Homo sapiens: one gene and its partners. The protein of the gene in region 1 interacts with the protein of each later gene in a biochemical or structural test. Each region holds a gene or a part of one and is shown in the gene's direction. Other genes may lie near its edges.

Region 1 (3,500 bases):
GAGCTGAGTGAAACTTTAGACTTCAAGAAGGACACAGAAGACCAGGAAAGTCAACATGAGAGTGAACAGGACTTCTCCCAAGGACCTTGTCCCACTGTTCGCCAGAAGCTCTGGAATATCCTGGAGAAACCTGGATCTTCCACAGCTGCCCGTATCTTTGGCGTCATCTCCATTATCTTCGTGGTGGTGTCCATCATTAACATGGCCCTGATGTCAGCTGAGTTAAGCTGGCTGGACCTGCAGCTGCTGGAAATCCTGGAGTATGTGTGCATTAGCTGGTTCACCGGGGAGTTTGTCCTCCGCTTCCTGTGTGTGCGGGACAGGTGTCGCTTCCTAAGAAAGGTGCCAAACATCATAGACCTCCTTGCCATCTTGCCCTTCTACATCACTCTTCTGGTAGAGAGCCTAAGTGGGAGCCAGACCACGCAGGAGCTGGAGAACGTGGGGCGCATTGTCCAGGTGTTGAGGCTGCTCAGGGCTCTGCGCATGCTAAAGCTGGGCAGACATTCCACAGGTATTCACATTTCACTGATGCCTTTTAATTTGCCATTGCATGTAAGCATTCGTTTTTTGACCACAGTACAAGGAAAGTAACGCTGAACTGATATTCAAAATTACCAACTCCCATACTTTACCTGATCATGACCTCTAAGGAGATATTGGGAGGCAAAACATTGAAGTTGCTATCACAGGTATAGAGAAATGAGCTCTCACATACCTCCTCTCCATAAGAGAAATGTTGAGAGACAATTTGACCATTTGCTAACCTCAGTTTATTTGAAACCATTACCCAGAAGATATACAAAAATTAAACGCACTCTGCCTATTCAAGGTTCTGGACAAAACAGGCATAAATGACACATAAAAAGATACACATAAATTATATATGATATATAGGGACATAAGCCAATTTCTCTTCAGTATCCGAGAAGTGCTTGCCACATATGCTCCTTGGCAGAAGAGAAAGTCAGCCCTTCAGAGCCTTCTCTGGCCATGCAGAAAGAGAAATGACTAGGTGCAGGTGGCCTTTCCAAAATTTTCAAAGAAGCAATGAAAATATTTTGCTTTGGGAGAAAGCAAAATAAACTAATTAAATGCTTTATCTAGTATCTGAAGGTTTTCTTGTCCCTAACCTGGGATGTATGAGAGAGGGGAATACAGAAATCCCTTAGTTTTTTGTGTATCACAGAGCCTTTGAAAATCTAATTAATATTTTCCTAGAAAAGTCTCCATATAACACACACACAAACACATAAGATACGTGAAAATTATAATCAATATCAGTGAAAATCACAGGAACTGATTAAAAATGATTCTTGCATCCCCAACAGTAGTAGTTATCAGTGGCTGGCCTTGCAGCTGTCAGATATTGTGGAGTATATGAGTTTCCTTATGACATACCTTAATGAAAATAAGGATCCCCAGGCAAGCTTGTTGAAATACAGCTTCTGGCTCCAACCCCCAGAAAGCTTGAGATCGGGTCTAGGAGCACACATTTTATAAATAATAAGTTCACCAATGACTTTGATGTAGGTGGTTCTTGGACCAAACCTAGAGAAACACTGGAGTATGATGCCATATTAATTTTATATATGTTGATACAAATACATATTAGCACAAACAAATTGGCTAGATATCACTATCCTTATTTTATTTCCCTAGATATGTGCCCTGACTGACCACCTAAAAAAGGTTGATGGTAGTTGTCCTTCCTATAAATGTCAGGTGAAATTACTTCTGATATGTTTTTCTTCAACATTTCTCTGACAATTAGAACTTATTATAATATAATTTTGGTAGTGTATTTTCCTAGCTAGTCTCACATACCAGGAATTTGATAATGGGGTTTCCAATAACTTTTACAAGTACCACTCTTTGTTTTCTGACACAGATAATGGGATGCTTTCTTCAAGTATTTATAAACTCTTCACAAGACTCAATTTAAAAACACCCAGTAAAAACTACATTTTTTTCCAAAAGAAAGGAAAAGGAAAATAACAGTGATTTCCACAATGTCTCCTCTTCAAAGATTTTCACCATTCTAAAACAAGTATAAAGTTTTAGTAAACCCTTAATTATTAAAAAATATGTGACTTGCATATTTGACAATTTTGCCTCAACACTACATTTATTAAAATGTACACATAGATGACCTATTTCCCCATGTATTAATTATAAATTCAAATTGAGAGATGTTATAGGATAATGGGTTTTTGGCCAGAAACTAGGTTTAAATCCTGGCTCTGTAGCTTTCTACTAGATAAGCTATCTCTTTATGCCTCAGCCTCCTCGTCTGTATAATGGCATAACAATTACCATGTCCCTCTTATATCCTTTCTTTTGAAGATTCTCTGAGTTAATAGAGATAACATGCTAGAAATTCCACCCACTTTGTTTTCCTTTACAAAATTGTTTTGAACATTTTGCCTTTAAACTAAAACAGTGTTCCCAGACAAATGCTATGCATCTCCTCATATGCTGTGAATTTATTTAAGGAACATAATTCCATGTAGACACATCAAGGCCAGTTTTTTATAAAAGTAAAGGTATTATAAAGGTATTCTGAAAGATACTCTTTTGAAGTTAAACTTCAAAATACTCAATGATCTTTAAAAATAGCTGGTTAATAATTCAAGAATATCTCAAAATTTGAAGAGCAAAATTCAAAATCCTAAGAGTATGATTAGTATGCTAATGCCTTTGAAATAGTCTCTAGTGAGTGAATAAAAACAAAAAATGATTCTAAGAGGTATTGTTTTGGACTTCTGGGGCAATATCATTTTGACATCATGTTGATATAATTTCAAAATGTGGACAAACTTTAATAACCACCTCTCTAGTATTAGGGAATAAATCTTATGGTTCATTCAAAGCCTGGTTCCATAATGGGCTTTTCTTTCTTTCTTTTTTTTTTTTTTTCTTTTTTTGAGAGGGAGTCTCATTCTATTGCCCAGGCTGGATTGCAATGGCGTGATCTTGGCTCACTGCAACCTTCGCCTCCCAGGTTCAAGTTATTCTCCTGCCTCAGCCTCCCGAGTAACTAGGATTACAGGCACGCACCACCACGCTGGGCTGATTTTGCTATTTTTAGTAGGGATAGGGTTTCACCATGTTGGCCAGGTTGGTCTCAAACTTCTGACCTCATGATCTGCCTGCCTCAGCCTCCCAAAGTGCTGAGATTATAGGCGTGAGCCACCGTGCCCGGCCCATAATGGGCTCTTACTCCCCTTAGGCCTAGTGTCTTCAGAGACGGAATTGGACTATCGTGGTTCTGTCTCCCTGGGGTTTAATAAATCCTCAGATCTAGGAATGGAAAAGCAGCCAATGCTTCATAAAGAGTAAATTCTCTAGTGGTTCCATTTCCCATACCTTTTTGCAATGGAGGAATATTCTGTATTCAGGTCTATGTTATTATAGGAAAGCAGAAATTTTATGTACTCAAGGGAGATAATTTCTTACAGCTTTGGTATTAAGGAGTAGGGTTTCAGTGGGTGTCTTGG
Region 2 (2,625 bases), on another chromosome or scaffold:
CAGGGTGGGTGCGGTGTGGTGGCTGAGCAGCCACTGACACGCTGTCCCCACAGGTCCTCTGCCGTCACCCGTCACCAATGGAACCAGCCCTGCCCAGGTAAGAGGGTGGGGTGCCCATGAGACACAGGGTGCCTCTGGGGGTACCCAGGCCCGACAGAGGCCCCCTTCTCCCTGGAGATCCGTCCTCGAGGTGTGCTAGTGACACCCGATTTTAGCCCTGTCACCTCCCTTTAATGCCCCTGTGGGTCTCATCCTGGGTCGTGCCACACACAAGCCACGTGGGGCCCCTGGGGTCGGGGCCACTGCCTTCTGTCCTCTCCTGGGCACCACCTGGTAAGGAGTTGCCCTCCAGTCTCTGCCTCCTCAGGGAGCTGGCGGTGGCCTCACCCCAGGCGTTGCTCACGCCGGCCATTCCTGCACCTGAACCCCCTCTGCACCATGAGCCGGCCAGGCCACCTGCCTGTCACTGCCAGGCGCCCGGTGCCTGCCCCGCCGCATCTGGAGTCCACCAGAGGCCCGAGGCCCCCTGCCGAGTGGAGGAGCACACACTGGGGGGGGGTGTGCCTCTGTGCACATGTGTGCGTGTGCAGGTGTTGTGTGTGTCTGTGAAACCACAATCTGCCCTTGGTTTCCCAGCTCAATGGTGGCTCTGCGTGCTCGTCCCGAAGTGACCTGCCTGGTTCCGACAAGGACACTGAGGTATGGATGTTCTCCACTCCTGAGCTCACACGTGGGGTTGCTAGAGGCCTTGGGGTAGGCGTCTGTGGAGATGTCAGCCCGGGCAGTGGGGTCTCTGTTCAGGAAGTCCTCGTGAGCCCCAGCCCCAGCAGGCAGCCTCTGTTGGTTGCTCCCTAGGAGGGGCCACCGTCTGGGGTGTGGGACTAGGGCTCACTCCAGACACCCCACCCACCGTGCTCACCCCAGGATGGCAGTGCCTGGAAGCAAGATCCCTTCCAGGAGAGCGGCCTCCACCTGAGCCCCACGGCGGCCGAGGCCAAGGAGAAGGCTCGAGCCATGCGAGTCAACAAGCGCGCGCCACAGATGGACTGGAACAGGAAGCGTGAAATCTTCAGCAACTTCTGAGCCCCTTCCTGCCTGTCTCGGGACCCTGGGACCCCTCCCGCACGGACCTTGGGCCTCAGCCTGCCCCGAGCTCCCCCAGCCTCAGTGGACTGGAGGGTGGTCCTGCCATTGCCCAGAAATCAGCCCCAGCCCCGGTGAGCCCCCATCCTGCCCCTGCCCACCAGGTACTGGGGGCCTGTGGCAGCAAGATAGGGGGAGAGAGACCCAGAGATGTGAGAGAGAGTCAGAGACAGAGACAGAGAGAGAGAGAGAGAGACACAGAGAGAGACAGAGAGAGAGCGAGCGAGCGCGCGGCAGCCGCGGGGCGAGGGCCTTTGCTGCTCTGCCGGGGCCTGCTGACTGAAAGGAATTTGTGTTTTTGCTTTTTTTCCAAAAAGATCTCCAGCTCCACACATGTTTCCACTTAATACCAGAGACCCCCCCCCTTCCCCTCCCCCTTCCCCTCCCCCTTGGGACGCGCTCTAAATAATTGCAATAAAACAAACCTTTCTCTGCAAACCATTTCCTCCCCGCCCCCTCCCCTCAGCAGCGGCCGTCCTGAGTGGGAGTCCCTGGGACTTCCCAGTGGCCAAGTTGGGGCGCCCAGCCTCTTCGTGGGGACCTTGGGTAAGGCCAGGGAGGCCTGATGTGGCCGTAGGAGCTGCCCCTGCCCACCTGCCCTGGTGTGGGGGTCCCTAGGCCACACCCTGCTCCCCACCCAGCTACCCTGTGCGCCTGTGCCCTGCTGGGGGCCTGGGCTCTCCGAGGGGCCTGAGGATGGAGGCCCCACGTCCCCGAGGAGGGCGGCCTCTGGACAGGCCCCTCATTCCGCGCGGCAGCTCCCAGGCCTGGGGAACGTAGGTGTGTGAGAGCGGCACCCGGGAAGGACGCCTGGCCTCTGGCTCAGCCCTGCTTGGCGGGCTCCCCCGTGGACACCCTGTTGACTTTGCACTTCCCTCCCGGGCCCCGCACCCCCGAACCGACCACCGATCGACCGGCACCGCTGTTGCCTCGTAAGCCATAGCGCATGCGCGCTCTCAGGATAAACAGGCCCTGCCTGGGACCCACACGCCTCTGTCTTTTCTGAGCCTCCTCCCCGTGGGGTGAGAGGGGTGGAGGGATGAGGCTGTTTCAGGGAGCCCCCTCCCCGAGTCTCAGCAGCTGGAAACGGTCTCGTTCCTGAGCCCGTGCCCTGCATCCATCTGCTCCCAGCCCTGCTCCATCTCCCCCGCTGACCCCCATGGGACCCCCTGCTGTGTGGCACATCCTGGGCCCATGCCCATCTCTCTTATTTGGCAGACTCAGCCTCCCACCTTCACCTTCCCTGTGAAGCCATCCGGCCCCACACAACACCCACACGGGCCACCCTTTGCCCAATTCACCCTGCGACCTCTAGCAGTCACAGGTCAAGCTTTGTACCCTGTGGCGCCCTGCCTGGGTCCCCAGTGTCCCTTTCAAGGCCGGGTAGCTCTGTAAACAGGGGTGGGACCCTGGCAGAGGCTGGGCTTTGAGGGCATGAAAGTTCAGGAGCTGGCGGTGTCCGGGCTGGGAAGCTGGGGGGCC
Region 3 (3,500 bases), on another chromosome or scaffold:
GAAACCCTGTCTCTACTAAAAAAAAAAAAAAAACAAAAAAATTAGCCGGGCGTGGTGGTGGGCGCCTGTAATCCCAGCCACTAGGGAGGCTGAGGCAGAGAATTGCTTGAACCCGGGAGGCTGAGGTTGCAGTGAGCTGAGATCGCGCCACTGCACTCCAGCCTGGGTGACAGAGTGAGACTCATCTCAAAAAAAAGACCCAGCAAATAATAGGTGCTCACTAAAATTGGTTGGATGCCTGAATGACTATTCCATTGTTTCGGAAGGTAAGTGCAACTAGGCCACTTGCAACATCTTTCCTCCCTTTCTCTCGATTTGTCTTTTACTTCTTGTTTAGGATCCAGAGGTCTTCACTTTCTCGTAATCAGATCTTCCAATTAGCAGGCTTTCTGTGTCTAATAATTTATACTGGGCTATAAATGACTGACAAGGATTAATGAATCCTATTCAAGTATTTCTGCCTGTTGACTCTAACTGAAGTTTAACAAGTGAGCCTCTAAACGTGAAATTTCAGATGTTCAGCAGGCAGGATGATGAGGATTTTTTTTGTTGATGTGGGACCTGTGTCCTCATGCCTAAAAATGATTCTTTCCCTCCGTTTTCTTGCAGCATTGTCCCTGTGTACTTTTTTTTTTGGCTAATAGCAAATCAGATCTTTGCTACAGAACACAATCCAATTTTAGCCCTCTCGCTCTTAAATTGTACTTTGTATTTATGTCTTTTTTTTTTTAACTTAAACTTTCAAAAATCAACCTGTTTTTGTTCTTGGTGCCAAAAGACCACTCTTGGAAGGATATTTTTAGGTTACACTGTGGAACACTGTACAGGTTTTACAAAAAATGAAGCAAGGACGTACAACGCACTTGTCCATCGTTTCCAGTGGCCACCCCTTGTCATTGGCTGTGTTATTTAAAAATAGATTAACTTGACCTTCTGTGGCAATGGCATACAGTTGGCTCACCGTGTTTCTTGGCATTCATTACCCAGCTGGTTTTAGATGGCAGAATTGATGATATCCACCAAGGGGAATTAAGTGGTTTATAAGAGAAAACATTCTGACATCTCCTTACCACAAGGGTTTACATGAAGGATGTTGCTTTGTAAACGAGGGTTATTTAATGCAAAGCACCACTCTCTGGTGTTAGTGGCCCTTTCCTTGAGTTTGTATATACAAGTAACAGGATATACTGATTTTGTATACACTGAGAATAAAGGCTGTCAAATTCGTTAAGGGCTGACATTCACATCCTAAAAAAGTAGGTTACTGCATGCCTGCCTGTCTTTTTGCAGCTCATATGTGAGATCTGTAACCTTGAAAAATCCCTAGTACACACTGGTGCATTGCTAGACTTCTCCCCTATGGAGGTCGGCATCGATGTAGTATTTCTTATGAATTCATTTTGTTGTTTCAACAGATGTCAAGGTTGGTCCTATCATATTGACTCTGCTTTCTAGTTAAGTGTCCTGTGGAGGGTCTAATGTGTTCTGGATGTCAACTTTTCCGAAGGCATGTAGCAAAATTAGAAAATGTAATTTGAGCAGTGTCTTTTATGATTAAATAGAAATCTTCTCTTTTTATGGCTCAGTAATTACATAATGGAATAATCCATTATTAATCATTTCTGTAGTCTCTGTATCTGAGTGAAAGCCGAAGTCCTTATAGTGACTTCCAAGGCTGCCCGTGACCTGTCCTAAGGATATTACTTCTCTTTCTCTGTCCTGCCTGCTAGTGCCCACCTGATCATCTTACAGGCTTGCTATCTCTTGAGCTTCAAGTCTTTCTGAAATGTCACCTGCCCAGTGAGGCCTCTTGTGAGCACATTATTGAAAACCATAACTCCACTGCCACGTGTCATTCCCTGTTCCCCCTCTCAGCTTTATTTTACTCCATAGTATGTAGATCGCTTCACCACAAGTAAATTTCTTATTTTACCTCTTTCTCTAGAATGTAAGCTCTGAGATGGCAGGAATGTTGTCTTGTTCTCCCACAGTATCCCCAGTAGCAAAAACAGTGCATGGTGCCTAGTACTTGCTTGGGTATTTGTTAAATGTTTACAGTCAAGTTTAGAACTAGAATAAATCTCTTCTGAGGTCAGTTACCTCTGAAAATGTAGATATATAGAAGTCCCTGAAAATTTAGGTGACTGATGATGGATCACATTAAAGTTGGTTAGAGTTTAACATTTACAGTCAATGGCTGGGGCTAAAATAGAGCTTAGCCGATTGATCCAGGAATATTCTTAAAGTCAGTGAACATTGCTGGCCTGCTTCAGTTGGTCTTAGTATTATGGGTTTACAAGTAAGAACATGTGGGTCCTTGGTTTCTTGTCAAGAAGGGGAGGGAAGAGTCCACTGGAGTCTCCTTGGAGTCAGAGATAAGGTCACATTTCCAATTTTAGGTTTCCCTGCATGGAAGAGGTCCTTGACTTTAAAATTAATTGAGTGTCCTGATTTTCAGAGGTTACTTTGATTTGGGAAATGACGGTAACAAGGGGTACCAGGTGGCTGATCCAAACAGGAGAGCTGAGGCTACTAGAGTCACCATGAAGATCTTGTCGAGTTAGGGATAGGTCTGTGCACAGCATCCCTTACTTAGCCAAGTCATTGGCCTCAGTCCACTTTCAGTCCTGTGTGCTCCCCACCAACATGAATCCCTAGAAGGCAACTCTAGGTCAGGATTTGAATGCACAGGGCTTATCTGGGAGGTGCTCCCAGGAAGTTCCAGTAGGGCAAGGAAGAGGTGAGACCAGTGAGTCAAGAAGGCCAATGGAGATGCTTTAAAGAGCAAGTCACCACTGTGTGTCTAAGGCAGCCCCATGCTGAGTGTGTCATGGAACTTTGCAGACTCTCTCACCCCTAAACAGACTGAGAGGTTCTTCTGGCTGTGTGTATAGACTTTTTCTGTTACCATCTCCAGTGTCATGAAGATGAGTTCCATAAGATAATTACATTCTCATGGCTAAGGTATCAACCCCACCATTACTGTGGATGGAGGCATTTGTGTGTCTGTTTAATGGGCCACAGTTATGCTTCTTACAATAAGGATAATCTTTACTCCTTTATGAGACAAGACTCGAGGCTCTCTTTATGGACAGGGGCATGATGGTGCAATTAAAAGGCGATCGTGCCCTGATTATAAGCCATGTTTCAAAATTACTGCTATATATAGTGTCATCAGGACCGTAGTACTGCTCATAAAATGATCCACAAATAGCAATTTACTGATGTGTCATAGAGTCAGATTTTGGACCCAAGGTTGGCTTGGGTGAAGAGGCAGGCTTTACACTTTATGAGCTGGGTGTTCTGGGGCAAGATGCTGAACCTCTTTGTGCCAGGTTTCCCCCTCGGAAAATGGGGATAATAATGATACCTACTCTCTAGGGTTGTTGGAAAAGTAGAAAGTAAACCACATGACACAGGGCTTGGCACATAGTGAGTGCTCAATAAATGTTGGCTTCTGTAATTGTTTGAATGCTCCCCATTTGAAAGCCCTTGGGAGA
Region 4 (3,500 bases), on another chromosome or scaffold:
CATGAAGATATATAGGGAGGAGACTGTCTCAAAATACCACTAGAAACTAATCACCACTAGAAACTTCCACATAATTTTGATGGTCCCATAAGGATCTTTCTATCTATGGAAGAAATATGAAAATCCTCTAAGTATGCATTTCTTTTGTAGGCAGCATTGCCCACTCTTTGTGTTTGTATAGCTGTGTACTCAGGAACCTGATGTTTAATCAGATCCGAGAACATGTGTACCATTCCCCCTTTGTGTTCTGTCAGGGACAAGAATTGTGGATATTTCCAGTGTTTGGGCCCATATTATAAGGCAGTCGAACCTGTTCCTGACTGATCTGCTTACTGCAAGGGAAGTAATGAAATCTTGGGGAAATTATGACAACAGAGTGAAGAGGCAAAAGAAGCTTGACATGTATTAGGTTGGTGCAAAAGTACAATTACTTTCTTTTGTTCTTCTTTTTTTTGAGACGCGTCTCACTCTGTCACCAGGGTGGAGTGCAGTGGCACGATCTTGTCTCACTGCAACCTCTGCCTCCCAGGTTCAAGCAATTCACCTGCCTCAGCCTCCTGTGTAGCTGGGATTACAGGCATTTGCCACCATGCCCGGGTAATTTTTGTATTTTTAGTAGAGACAGGGTTTCACCACGTTGACCAGGCTGGTCTTAAACTCCTGACCTCAAGTGATCCACCTGCCTTGGCCTCCCAAAGTTTTGGGATTACAGGCGTGAGCCACCCCGCCCAGCCATAAGTACCACTACTTTCAATGGCAGAACCGCAATTACTTTTGCACCAACCTAATAGCATGGAATCTCTCCTGTTGTCTGCTTTCTCAACTGTAAGAAGGGACTTGGGCTAGATGACTTCAGAGGTCTCTTCCATCTCTAAGAGTTCATTCTTTGGCTCATTTTATGATTATTTATGTTATTTTATGTTTCCTACCATTTGGAACTTCGTTTTGTTTTTATTTCCTGCCATTTTAGACTAATAGTATGAGCTGAAGAATTACAAAGGCAGTGGCTACAATCTCAAATGTCTTCAAGGGTTGAACAGTTTACCTTTTATCTTTAGTGGAATCTTGTTTTTTTCTACAGGAGTCCAGCTTGATTATAGTATCTAAGGCTCTCACTTTTTCTTTATCAAATTGAAAGTCTCTTAATGCGTCTCAAAACTCAGTTACTCTAAAAAGTGTGACAAGACTGTTTAATATGTTTTTTTGCACTGCAACAGGTAAGAGATTGGCCATAAAGACAACCTTACTGTACATTGAGTACTATGATTAGGAATCTTGTTTTTAGGTCCGAGTCCTCAATGGGTTTCAGCAAGTTACTCCTGATATGCCATCTTTAAAGAGGGAAGAGAATATTTATTTTCTTACTTTCTTTAAAGGCCTTGGAAAAGATGATGGGTTGATGGCAGTGTTTTAATAATGAATACTAAAGGAGGTATTGTCTTTCCGGTAGTGTGCTAGTTACTATATATACATATATATACTGTATATATACTATACATACATATATATACTGTATATATACTATACATACATATATATACTGTATATATACTATACATACATATATACTGTATATATACTGTATATATACTATACATACATATATATACTGTATATATACTATACATACATACATACTCATTTAATCTTCACAGCAACCCTGAGTAATAAATATTTAATCCACATTATTAGATTGGGAAATTGCCTTGGGGAGGTTAAGGACTTGCCCAGTTTCTAATGCCAGTAAATTTCAAAGGATTTTTAACCCAGGTGTGTTAATTCTGCTATACCATATACTACTTTCCACTGCAGTAGCCATGTTTAAGAAGTTGACTGCCAACCTTTCCCCTGACCTTTATTTTATTATATCATGCCTTATTCCCAGAAGCATTTGAGGCATCTTAAATGACTAATACAACCTACAGTGGAAAGTTTTTATTGCTTGCTCTTGATAGAGCTGAGGGCATATCAAGGTGAGTACCTAAAATCAAGATGCCCCATTAAGTTCTATCATTTAAGCCTTGTAGACCTGTCATAGGCTTTGGGTTTCATGCTAACTGAAACTGTTGCTAGCAGTTTTCTGATCTATTCCTTTCTTCACATATCAAATAGATGTGAGGCTAAATGCTATATCCTTGCCCTATTTTCTCTTGCTTACACAAAGTCTCGCCTTCATGGAGTTTACAATCCAATAGAGATATGATGTTCACATATGAAAAATTAAATCTCACTGCAAAGGTGCAGATAGTTAAGGAAAATGATGAGGAGGTAGTTAGTGGGAGGGCAAAGGAAGTGCGGAAAGGAGCATGGTAATCTGACCCTGTGTTGGGAAAGTTCAAGAATGCAGACACTGCTGAGAACCATTAAAATGGTCAATTAAAAGAACGTGGAACTTGTGGGTCTTCTGGAATGGACAGGCTTTAGGCTAGGGCCAGAGTCAGGGATGAGTATGGCCTAAGCAATAATAGAGAGAAGAAAATAAGCAGAGCATATTCTGAGGTTAGTGAGTAAACCAGCCTGGACAGAAGGAAAGTTTCCTTTAGGAGATTCAAGAGAGAAGAGGTAGCTGAGTAGTAACCTGAGTAGGTGGAGATCAGATTATGGAGTCTTTAGTGTTAGTATGGAAACTTAATCTTTCTCTAAAGTTCTATCTGGATTCTTTCTACTTCCTAGCCATTGATTAGGACTCAGTTCAACAGTTAGCTCCTCCAGGAAGCAGGCTTTACCTAGGATAGATGTTCTCTTATTGTCTATATTATACATCATTTACAGATTGCCTGTAATGTATTCCCATGTATTGCCAAGCTAAGCACTGTATCTTGTCCCCTTGTAAAAAGGAAGAGATGAAATGGTTATTATCCCCATTTCAGAAATGAGGAAACCTTGACTTCTGCATTATACAACTCTTTAAGTGAAGATTTCGATCCAGGTCTGTGTGACTTAAAATTCCAAGCCCTGAATCATTATAAATAACTTTTTTTTTCTATATGCTTTCTCACTTATGTCTCCTCCTTCTACTTCACTTTGAGCTCTTCTGAGTCAAAGAACATATATTTTATTTCTTATTTTCTTTCATTTAACTATTATTTTAGGTTCAGGGGTACATGTATAGGTTTGTTATATAGGTAAACAGTGTCATGTGGGTTTGTTCTACAGATTTTTTCGTCACCCAGGTATTAAGCCTAGTACCCATTAGTTATTTTTCCTGATTCTTTCCTCTCAACCTCCACCCTAAGTAGGCCCCAGTGTCTGTTCTCCTCTGTGTGTCTATGTGTTATTATTTAGCTCCCACTTATAAGTGAGAACATGTGGTATTTGGTTTTCTCTTCCTTTGTTAGTTTGCTAAGGATAATGGCCTCCAGCTGCATCCACGTTCCTGCGAATGACATGATCTTGTTCTTTTTCATGGCTGCAAAGTATTCCATGGTGTATATGCACCACATTTTCTTTGTCCAGTCTACCATTGATGGGCATTTAGGTTGATTCGATCTCTTTGCTGT
Region 5 (3,500 bases), on another chromosome or scaffold:
AACCCACCTCATCAAGATCTCTTTGGAAAGACACAAATTATTCTGTCCCCCTCATCACACTCCATGGCGCTGCATCTTTCCACGGAGGTTAAGTTCTAATGCCAGTACTTATGGCAAAATTACCCTTGAGAAGCCTGCAAATCAGCCATAAAATGGAGCCGTTTACATGGTTTTGTGTGTTTAGCCCCAAGGGAAGAGCAGATTCACATTTCCCAACTCGTGTTCATTGAGTGGAATGGTGGATGGAATCACTTACACTTTTTAAAGCCTCTCTCTCTCTCTCTCTCACACACACACACACACACATTTTTTTTTCTCTTGGTGGAGTATATATAGTTGACTTCATATAAGTTAAATGTGACTTGTATGTACTTATCAAACTACATAGATGCACGCTGTTTTGATCTTCCTTGAGAAGATAATACAAATCAACTGATTTCAGTATGGAAACTTTACAGTGCACACCCATCCTTGCAAACACAGAAACCCAATTTTGTCAGGAAATAAAATTTGTCGCTACAGAATGATCTACTAGACTTAATAATTATCTCTTTGGTTGTATGTCATTCACCAAGCTTAAGTTAACCCATCCTTTCTGCATTTGGGGACATCCCTCCCCTTACCAGTCCCCCTTGTCCCAATTATATTTCAATTTTAAAGTTATTTTCCAAATTTTAATACAAGTATTTGGTATAAAATAAGGTATAGTTGCTAGTCCACATAATGAAGGGTATCCTTTAACCTGTTCTACATCATTGATTTGATTTTAATTACCATGCATGCAACAAAAGTCAGCTGTGCCTCCTCAGATCAGCAGAGCCTGCACACACTGCTGTGTAACAGGGTTGCTACACAGGGATCCAAGAACCAGCCCTAGAAAGGGCTTAGAAGCAGATCAGCTCATGTTTGCCTCTCCTTGCACGACACTAAGTCTTGTTTATTTCTGTGCAAAACAGAAACACAGGGGTGAGCATGACTGTGTTTTAGAAATGGTTTTGAAAGTGCTGTTGCTTATTTTCATGCATGTCTGCGTTTGCGCTGAGATGGTCCATGTGTGTTTCAGATTGACCCTAACAGCATTGCAGCCAAGGATGGGCGCATCCGAGAAGGAGACCGCATTATCCAGGTAAGTCCACTTCCAAACAATGGCCTCATGATGGGCCTATCACTAAAGAACAAACTGGTTCTAATGATAGGTCTAGGGTTGAAAATGCAGAAGCGGTTAAAGAACAGGGATCACAAACGCAGATGTGTAGTGAGGCCAGACAAGTTAAACTAATTGTGAGGCTATCTCTGAGTCATAAGACGCAAGAGGGAGTGGTGAGGACTGGGACAAACTAGATGGGGCATGTTCTCTCCAAAGAGGGCCTTGCAAAATTTGAGCCAGTTCTCCTTATTTTGTTTCATTCTGTTTGGATCAAAACAAACATCAGTGAGCCAAAGTCAGGCCAACAGTTTACAACTTGTGAACTAAAATAATTCTCGTTTTAGATTTCTCTGAAAGATTAACTTTGGACCAAGCATTTCAGAGGCTCGTCCATAAAAGGGGAACATTTTTGGCAAATTTAGCAGCATCGATTGAAAAGTCTTAGAAATTTTCTGACTCAACATCTAACCATCCTGGAATCGCTTCTAAGGGTCATTACTTGACCTCGAGCCCTGTTGCTCCGTCTAGTCCAAATGAGACCATTCATGTCTCTTTTGGCTACAACCTTCTTTAATCTCACAGAATTGAAATTCTTGGCTTCATTGTGTCCACAAGGCTTAGCTTTCTACCTCTTCTCATCCGTATCCTCTCATTCTTAATCCACTGTGTTTTTCTCATTGCATACCTCACCACAGGTCATTTTGATTTTCTTCTTCCACTGCCTACTCTGGGTTTCTCTAGCCTTCAGCCAGAACCTGTGCTGCTCAGGATCGCTTGCCCTAGGGAAGTGACCCAAACCTTCACACCTGAAGGGTCAGGGTCCTCAGCATACTGCCTCTTTTTTTTTTTTTTTTTTTTTTTTTTGATTGCTGGAGTTTTCCATTAACCTTTACTACTGAGAATGGAAGCACTCAGAGGTACTCCAAGGAATCCCCTAGGTTCCAGACACAATCCTCCCTGCCTCCACTGTGTCACAGCAAGCCCATCTTCCTTGGTAATTGAGGGCAATCACTCCAACCAATAGAGTCACCCCTTTTGCTGCCTGTTGGCTCACTAGTGTAAGGAGGCATATGGAAGCCTCCACTTCCAATTCAGTGGAACCATTGCTGTGTCCCCTGGAGGCGGCGTTCCACCAGGACTAAGACCTCCAGACCAGCAGGGCTCAAAGTCACCAGGACATGCAAGCAAAAATCCTGCAAGAGGGTTAATCAAGTGTGATAGTGAGAGTGTCACGCCCACTTGACCCTCCGCCTGGCCCAAAGAAGTTTAAGTGTCAAACTGGGGACACAAAACACCATGTATAATTCTATTCCATTTTCTTAACCTCAGTTTGCTGCTTTTTCTTCTATATTATCCAATAATGTCTACATATACTCCTGCCTGAATATTATGTCTAATTGCTTCCATGTTCCCTCTGCAGAGCATTATGATTTTTCTCAGTGCCGTCTTCTGGAGGTCCAGCCCCTTCTGTTCACACCCCACACATCACAGTCACCTCATGAACTATACTCATGGAGGCTCCCTTATAGACCAGAGAAACTGCATTGGTCTGAGCAAGACCTTTCCTTCCTAACATCAGTATTCTTTTCCAGCTACACGGAAGTTGTATGTTCTAACTGTGAGTGGGTGACAAATGCAGGTCTGAAATAAAATAGAATGATTTTGCACCATCTAATCATGCTATTTGTCTCCCCACTCTCCCCACCCCCCCTTTTTTTTTAAAAGATTAATGGGATAGAGGTGCAGAACCGTGAAGAGGCTGTGGCTCTTCTAACCAGTGAAGAAAATAAAAACTTTTCATTGCTGATTGCAAGGCCTGAACTCCAGGTAAATTGGCTTCCTACAGATGAAACTGGGTCTATATTTCTAAAATCAAAAGATCCCCAGGCCTGCAAAAGAGCACCTGAGTATTGGCTGCGAACTTGAAGGTGCTTTGTTCCCTGGAAATGTAATCAAACTTGCTGTGATTCAGAATTCACTTTATGAGTTAGCCATTTAAGGTTGGTTAGATGCCCACCCTGGCATCTATACTGCAGGCCCACGACGTTCATTAATGCAGGGATCATAGGGAAGGAAAAGGAAACAGAATTGAATGGAAAACACAACCGGGGTCACGTCAAGACATTTGACTTCCCAAGGCCTGACATATGTTCCAGCCTTGATCTGTGCAGGTTTCATTTACAATAGCAGAGTATGGGGAATTAAAACTTGCTCTTTCAAATTAAAAGAAACATTGAATGATAAATAATTAAAACTGATATGACCACCGAATAAGTGCTAGGCCCTCCGTGGAGCACTTTACACACAGGAGAGCCTTCCCAGGAGATGGAAGTTCCCAGAGATTCAAAAGTTA
Region 6 (3,500 bases), on another chromosome or scaffold:
CTGTGCTGGGCCTGCTAGGGAAGGACCCCTTCACTGGGGGCCTAATGCTCTGGGAAGGGACAGTGATAGTATTTAGTGTTAGAAATCATGACGTAACTGAATAGATTTGCTTCTTGGTTTCCAACATTTAGATACCTCATTCTAAAGAGGTAAATTTATGCTATAACACAGCAGCTTAATTTATCTGAAAATCTCATCGGCAGCAATGCCAGGGGCCCAGAGAGCCCAGGACTGGATCCAGGGGAACAGCGGGGTTGGATGTTGCCACACTCGTGGCCCGGAGCTCCTGTGGCTATTTATAGGTCCTCTCCTGAGGAGTCACAAGAGCCTTTTTACTTCTGCTTTGGACACAGCATTATTGATTATCCAGGCCCAGGGGGATTGCAAATCATGGAGGCCCTGACAGTCCTGAGGAGAAATGGCTAACAAAGAAAGGGAAGATGGAAAAACTGTGAGGGAAAATAGAACTTAGAAAGCTTGGCAGCTTGGGATCCCCCGCTGCAGGAGCTGACGCCCAGGTGCCACACTGGATGCCCTGAGAACACGGCCTCATTGGATTCATTCTCAGGAGCAGGTAAGTACAGCCGAGGCCCAGAGAGGTGACGTGCCTTGCCCAAGGTCACATGCCTACTGCCACTGTTGGAGGACAGTCCAGTGTTTATATGCCCATCTAATGCATATAAACGTGTTTAATAAGGGATATATCTTAAAAAGCAAACATTTTCTCTTGGATCAAGTGAAATTCACATGAAGGGATGTCGTTGAAATAAGGTTGGAGTTTTGCTGAGAAATGTAGTTTGGCTTCTAACCCTTTTGTTTGCATTGTTCAAATTAATCAGAAAAATTATCTGAATAGCAGTCCATATGGCCTATTTATGTTTTGAGAGCTTGAGTCCTCCTGGAAGAATAACTTACCCTTAAGTCAATACCCGTCACTTCCCAAAGGGCATAAACCCATCTAATTCTGCCTGTTTATACAGCTGAGGCTACTGTTTTGGGAGCCACCACTTGACTGAGAGTGTTAGGGATTTGTGTCACCCTTGGTGCCTTCTGCTGGGGTAGTAATGAGTTAACCGGCTCTGAATGTCAGCCTCCGCCAAGGAAGGCATCCTTAGAAAGGTCAGGACACGAGGTTCACTGGTGTCTAATAAAATTTTTAAGTGGAATTTGCTTTGAACACTTTGCACTCAACGTTTTTCCCACCCAGGCGAAGTCCTCGGCTCCGGCACGAAATCCGAAAGCCACGCCACTCTTCTGCAGATAACCTTGCAAATGAAATGACCTACATCACGGAAACGGAAGATGTATTTTACACGTACAAGGGCTCTCTGGCCCCTCAAGACAGCGATTCTGAAGTTTCTCAGAACCGAAGCCCGCACCAAGAGTAAGAAACTCGTGTTGTTTTATTTCTGGGTATTTGCTTTTTGGCTGTTGCGGAATTTGCTCAGGTCCAGGTTGCCATTTGAGAGGAACCAAGAGCTGGTGCCTGCAGCCAGCTCCCACAGGTGCCTTCTGCCAGGATAAGAACATAAATCAGACTCTACCTTTTCACCCGGAAGACGGTCTATGTGCCTGGGGTCTAGAGCTTGTACTTCTTTTTGTCCACGACAAAGACTTCCTAGTCACTAAGTACTTGTTAGTCTCTTGAATTAGTCTCCTCTCCAGCTCACAAGCAAAGCCCAGTTTAATCATTCCCTGTTCTGGAGGTACAGACTCTAGGGCCATGCTAACTCTGATTTCTCTAGATTATTAAAGTTTTACCATCACATGATTTCAAATCATTGGAAATATGCTTGCTTCTAAAAGCCTTCTCCGAACAACAGGGTTCTGAGGGGTTTTGTTTTCAATTAATAGTTAGTATAAAGAAACAAACGTTAGAACATCTCTAATTTTCTTTGAGAAATTTTTTGTTAAATTTTTATGTCCTACCTCCCCCACCCCGCTTTTTTAACGTGACAGAGTTCCCTCATAGCTCAAGGACAGAAAAAATGTCTGTCCTGAAAGATGGTTGAGTGCTTTTGTTATTCAATAGGATATATTTAACCCATTTGTTTCCCTTTTTGCCTTGGTTACCAGGGAGTTCAGAACTGCACATTAGGCTCAATTGTATTCACTTCCCTCAGCCCAGATTTCTTGTATAGGACCTTCTCTTCCTCATTTGCCTTTGTTATATGGGTCTTTTTTTTCTTATTTTAATGGATTCATAGTTACATATCTGTACGTTTTGGGGTAAACTCGCAAATCATTTTTTTAAGTAGGTAAGACATAGATTATAAATTAGGTTAAAGCATGATAGTAAAGGATCAACTGTTAGGAAATCAACCATAGTCATTGGGTATCTATTCTGTTAAGCCCCATACTATTTCTAAAATATAGTAAGATAATGGCCCCCCTAACAGCTGAGGATTAGCAAGCAGGCACGTTAGTTAATCTGTAAATTTTTTACCACTGTAGCTATTAGGCTGAAAGCATCAAATGCACCCTGATTGGACTCCAGGCATTTGCAGGTGAATTGCAAATCTCCTTCCCATTTGTATGTGAGGCTGCTACCTCTCCTCTGTCCTTGCCCACAGCAAACATGGTTTCCAGTTTATCTGTGTTCTTAACACCTCTGGTTAAATAATCCCTGTGGTCATTCTTTCCTTGTGACCTGAGCTTGGATGATGCTTTTGCTAAATGATTGCTATCTCTTGTTCCAACTTGCAGCCTGCTGCCCCTTTGTCAGGGCTACAGTGGATGATTGTGAGTTCCTTTGTGTGACTTTGTAGCTTTTCAAACCACAAGCACATCTAGAAATACAAAGCAGGAGTGCAGGCATGCGTGACTAGAGCCGTTTTGAGTCTGCAGTGGGGGCTCTGCGGCTTTGGCAAAAGGAGAAAACGGTTTAGGGAAGCGTTGGAGGGCTCTGGGAAGCCCACTCACACCTGCTGCGTCAGAGCTTCCTGTGGTGGTTTGCAGTCCCATCACAGAATTGTACAGCATCTAAACCTTCCCTGTCCAGTACAGCAGCCACCAGCCCCAGTTGTCTATTCAGATTTAAATTAATTAAAATAATAAAAATGTAGGCATTCAGTTCCTCAGTCACATGAGCCTCATTTGAATTGCTTGACAGCCACACAGGAGTGTTGGCCTCCATCTTGGACAGCACAGATACAGCCCATTCCCATCACTGCAGAAAGTGTTGTCAGCAGCACTCATCTAGACTAACACGTTTATTCCATCGTTCATTTAAAGGGTGAACCCCTAGAATATCTACAAGCGAAAAGTGCATTTTTCACACAGAATTCATGTGGGAGTAGGTTTGGAATCATCACCTTGCTTGCAGTCTGGGCGCTCCACACCACTCACCCAGCTGCTCATCTGTGGCATGGGGCAGGTGGATAGCCTCTGAGTGCCCTCACAGCCCAGCACCCTCTGTCTCTTTATGCAATCAGTGCCAGGTGGGGAGGGATGCATTCTGTCCAATGACATGCAGGCACTTTAGAGGGCTTGCATTCATT
Region 7 (3,500 bases), on another chromosome or scaffold:
TGAAACACAGTAGGAAGACCATGTGCAAAATGGCCAGAGCCCTGTGAGAGATAGAGACCCACGGTGGACTACAGGGCTGGTCTCTGTCGGTTACAAACAGTGGCCATGTATTTTCACAAGGGATCTAAATGACTCGCTGCTGGATATACACAGTACTCCCAAGGCAAAGAAGCCTAAATAGAGAAATACCCTTGCAGGAAAAGATTCCTCTTTCTTACAGAATTTAAGCCAGAGCAATGGTTCTCAGCACGGTTCCTGGCATCAGCATCACCTGGAAACTTGGTAGAAATGTAGATTCTCTAGCCCCACCCAAAACTGCTGAATCAGAAACTCTAGGAGTGGGGTCACCAGGCTATGTTTTAGGAAGCTCTTCAGGTGAAACTCTGAGGTTTTACCTTCCGAGGTTTTATTATAGATACCTGTGTCAACTGCAATCCAAAAATATTACATAAAATTTTTCAGAAATAAACAATTATAAATTTTAAATTGTGCAGCGTTGTGAGTATCGTGCTGAAATTTTGTCCTTCCCAGAAGGTGAAACAGCCCTTTATCCACACTGTAGATGCTACCTGCCCACTGGTTACTCAGCAGCCCTCTCGATTATCAGATTGACTATCATGGTATCGCACTGCCCGTGTTCAAGTAACCGTTGTTTTACTTAGTAATGGCCCCAAAGTGCAAGAGTAGTGATGCTGGCATTTTGTTATAATTGTTCTTTTTTTATTGTTTTTGATCCCTTGCTGTGTCTAATTTGTAAATTAAACTTTATCATAGATATATATAGGGAAAACAGTGTATATAGGGTTAGTTCTGCCTGTGATTTCAGGCATCCGCTGGAGATGTTGGAATATATGCAAGAGGTATGAGAGGGAGCTACTATATTCACTTTATCAAAAAACCAGTGGAGAGTAGCAAGTTTTGACTTTAATTATTATACTAGATGGTTTTTCAACATCAGTTAATACTGATGTATTAAAAGTTGAATAGATAAAACAAAACACAATCTGTGAATGCAGAAAATAAGGGGAATAATAAAAAGAGATATATCATTGTCACGTCTGCTTGCTTTTCTTCAGTCAGTCAAGAAGGCTGGTGTCATAAGAGAAACACAATGGACATTCAGATTTTAAGGAAAAGGATAATAAATTATTAGAAAATATTACTGGAGCTGTTTATAAAAAGAAGACTTACGTTTGTAAAATGGCCTAATAAAATTGGGAGGGATGAAATTTTCATAGCTAGTGAATAAAATCTCTGATACAAAGCTCCTAGGAATATAACCTAATTAAAAGCCAAAACTAAATAGAAAACACAGGCAAAAAATAATGAACATAAAAAATAATATTGGCAAAGCTCAGTAAAACAGGGAATGTAAGAAATCAGGAGACATTTGGAGGGAAAGAATAGAAATTCTAAGTGCTTAAATAAAAATCTGAGAGTCAAGTTAAAAGAGAAATCTGAAAGGAGATCGTTTGCTCTTAAAATGGTAAAATATTTTCCTGTTTCCATAAAAGTGTAATATAGTTCGCATTTCCATAAAATGTATTTTTATGATGAAAAAGAACATTATTTCATAACTTCATCACTTGCAGCTGGGTACCATTTGTGTATGCCTATTTAGCATCACATAAGCTTATTTATAAGATGGTTTACCTACTTTCTGAAACTCACATGATGCAAAAGTCTGCCTGCAATGGGCTTTGGAATGACTAAAACATTTTGTTCAACCAATCAATGCACAAAAAAATATCATTTGCCCATCTTTTTTTTAAAGGAAAAGCAACATTCCCTGAAATTAGCTTCTTCTAAATTTGTCACCTTTCCTTCTATAGACCAGATATAACTAGTCAATACAAAAGCATCTTGGTTTATATATTGTTTTTATTAAACATAAAACGATTTACAAGAATATTTCTAACATATGTAATAAGTGTAAATACTAACCATGATTCAAGGACCCATGAACCCATAGCCCCACTTAAAAAACAGAACATTACCAAGCTCCCATGATTTCATTCTCCTCCTACTCTCCAGCCCTCAGAGGGAACCACCTTCCTAAATAAAGCACTTGACATTTCTTCTGTTGTTACCACAGATGTGTGTATCTCTCAACTATAACCTTTAGCTTGGTGCACTTTGTGAACTTTATGTAACTGAACCATACTGTACATGTTCTTCTCTGTGGTTTGCTTTCTATATGTTATGTTCATGAGATTCATCCAAGGTTGGTGCATGAAGCTATAGTCCATTTATTTTTCACTGCTATAAGTTATTTCATTATGTGAATATGCTACAACCTATAATAATTATCTATTTTTCCATTTTATGGACATTTGAGATTTTCCCTGTCAATTTACACTTTGGTTGTTTCCAAGTTTGTTGTAACTCATACAATCTTTGTACATCTTTCCTGCTGTACCTATGCAAGACTTTCTCTAGACTAGACTAGATGCCTTGGAGGGCACAAATTTAACTTACCTAAGTAACACAAAAGTATTGTCCAAGGTGGTTTTACAAAGTTATACTTGTATTAGCATATGTAAAAAAGTTTTTCTTACTACACACACTCACAAGATTTGTACGTCAGACTTTTAAACTCTCATTCTGGTAGGTAGAAAATTATATATTTTAGATTTGGATTTGCATTTCTTGATTACAAATTCATATTCATCATTTTTTCTTATATTTATTAGACGTTCATGTTCTCTCTTAACTAAAAAATGCCTGTACATGTCTTTCCTCATTTTCTGTTGAATATTTCTTCATGTTGATTATAGAAATGCTTATATATTATTGGTGATCTTTTTCATCAATTAATGTGATACAGATATCTTATGCCAGCTTATGGCTTGCAGTTTCACTTTCTTTATGATGCTCTTTGATAATGAGAAAGTCTTAATTTTAGCGTAATTGGCTTAACCCTTTTTTTTTTTTTTATAGTTTCTGCTTTCTGTGTCTTGTTTGAGAAATCATTCTCCAAGACATGGTCTTAAACGTCTTCTCTTATATCTTCTTCTAAAAGTTGTATAGTTTTACTTTTTATATCTAAGTATTTAATCACCTACAGTTGATTTCTCTGTATGATATAAGGTAGAACCTCAATCTCAATTTTTCCATATGGATAACCACATGTCACAGCATCATTATTTTTTTTTTTTTTTTTTTTTGAGACGGAGTCTCGCTCTGTCGCCCAGGCTGGAGTGCAGTGGCGGGATCTCGGCTCACTGCAAGCTCCGCCTCCCGGGTTCACGCCATTCTCCTGCCTCAGCCTCCCAAGTAGCTGGGACTACAGGCGCCCGCCACTACGCCCGGCTAATTTTTTGTATTTTTAGTAGAGACGGGGTTTCACCGTTTTAGCCGGGATGGTCTCGATCTCCTGACCTCGTGATCCGCCCGCCTCGGCCTCCCAAAGTGCTGGGATTCCAGGCGTGAGCCACCGCGCCCGGTCCACAGCATCATTATTTAATGAGTATTTCTTTGTCCCACCCCCCACCAATCTG

The links.
Region 2: the proteins of KCNV1 (region 1) and NHERF2 interact in a test that uses a peptide from one of them, tested with the Homo sapiens proteins (one large-scale study listed by IntAct).
Region 3: the proteins of KCNV1 (region 1) and MAGI1 interact in a test that uses a peptide from one of them, tested with the Homo sapiens proteins (one large-scale study listed by IntAct).
Region 4: the proteins of KCNV1 (region 1) and SYNJ2BP interact in a test that uses a peptide from one of them, tested with the Homo sapiens proteins (one large-scale study listed by IntAct).
Region 5: the proteins of KCNV1 (region 1) and PDZRN3 interact in a test that uses a peptide from one of them, tested with the Homo sapiens proteins (one large-scale study listed by IntAct).
Region 6: the proteins of KCNV1 (region 1) and PTPN3 interact in a test that uses a peptide from one of them, tested with the Homo sapiens proteins (one large-scale study listed by IntAct).
Region 7: the proteins of KCNV1 (region 1) and MAGI2 interact in a test that uses a peptide from one of them, tested with the Homo sapiens proteins (one large-scale study listed by IntAct).

Annotation. Positions count from the first base shown.
Region 1 is NC_000008.11:109,969,272-109,972,771, reverse strand, and holds part of KCNV1 (potassium voltage-gated channel subfamily V member 1), read left to right. Parts: coding exon 1-514; intron 515-3,500. UniProt on the Homo sapiens protein: Potassium channel subunit that does not form functional channels by itself. Modulates KCNB1 and KCNB2 channel activity by shifting the threshold for inactivation to more negative values and by slowing the rate of inactivation.
Region 2 is NC_000016.10:2,036,902-2,039,526, forward strand, and holds the end of NHERF2 (Na(+)/H(+) exchange regulatory cofactor NHE-RF2), read left to right. Parts: intron 1-53; coding exon 54-97; intron 98-636; coding exon 637-699; intron 700-855; coding exon of another isoform or gene 856-885; exon of another isoform or gene 886-924; coding exon 925-1,083; 3' UTR 1,084-2,125; downstream 2,126-2,625.
Region 3 is NC_000003.12:66,028,919-66,032,418, reverse strand, and holds part of MAGI1 (membrane-associated guanylate kinase, WW and PDZ domain-containing protein 1), read left to right. Parts: intron 1-3,500. UniProt on the Homo sapiens protein: Plays a role in coupling actin fibers to cell junctions in endothelial cells, via its interaction with AMOTL2 and CDH5. May regulate acid-induced ASIC3 currents by modulating its expression at the cell surface.
Region 4 is NC_000014.9:70,410,591-70,414,090, reverse strand, and holds part of SYNJ2BP (synaptojanin-2-binding protein), read left to right. Parts: intron 1-3,500. UniProt on the Homo sapiens protein: Regulates endocytosis of activin type 2 receptor kinases through the Ral/RALBP1-dependent pathway and may be involved in suppression of activin-induced signal transduction.
Region 5 is NC_000003.12:73,387,442-73,390,941, reverse strand, and holds part of PDZRN3 (E3 ubiquitin-protein ligase PDZRN3), read left to right. Parts: intron 1-1,063; coding exon 1,064-1,126; intron 1,127-2,872; coding exon 2,873-2,974; intron 2,975-3,500. UniProt on the Homo sapiens protein: E3 ubiquitin-protein ligase. Plays an important role in regulating the surface level of MUSK on myotubes. Mediates the ubiquitination of MUSK, promoting its endocytosis and lysosomal degradation. Might contribute to terminal myogenic differentiation.
Region 6 is NC_000009.12:109,418,308-109,421,807, reverse strand, and holds part of PTPN3 (tyrosine-protein phosphatase non-receptor type 3), read left to right. Parts: intron 1-322; exon of another isoform or gene 323-574; intron 575-1,207; coding exon 1,208-1,384; intron 1,385-3,500.
Region 7 is NC_000007.14:78,120,668-78,124,167, reverse strand, and holds part of MAGI2 (membrane-associated guanylate kinase, WW and PDZ domain-containing protein 2), read left to right. Parts: intron 1-3,500. UniProt on the Homo sapiens protein: Seems to act as a scaffold molecule at synaptic junctions by assembling neurotransmitter receptors and cell adhesion proteins. Plays a role in nerve growth factor (NGF)-induced recruitment of RAPGEF2 to late endosomes and neurite outgrowth.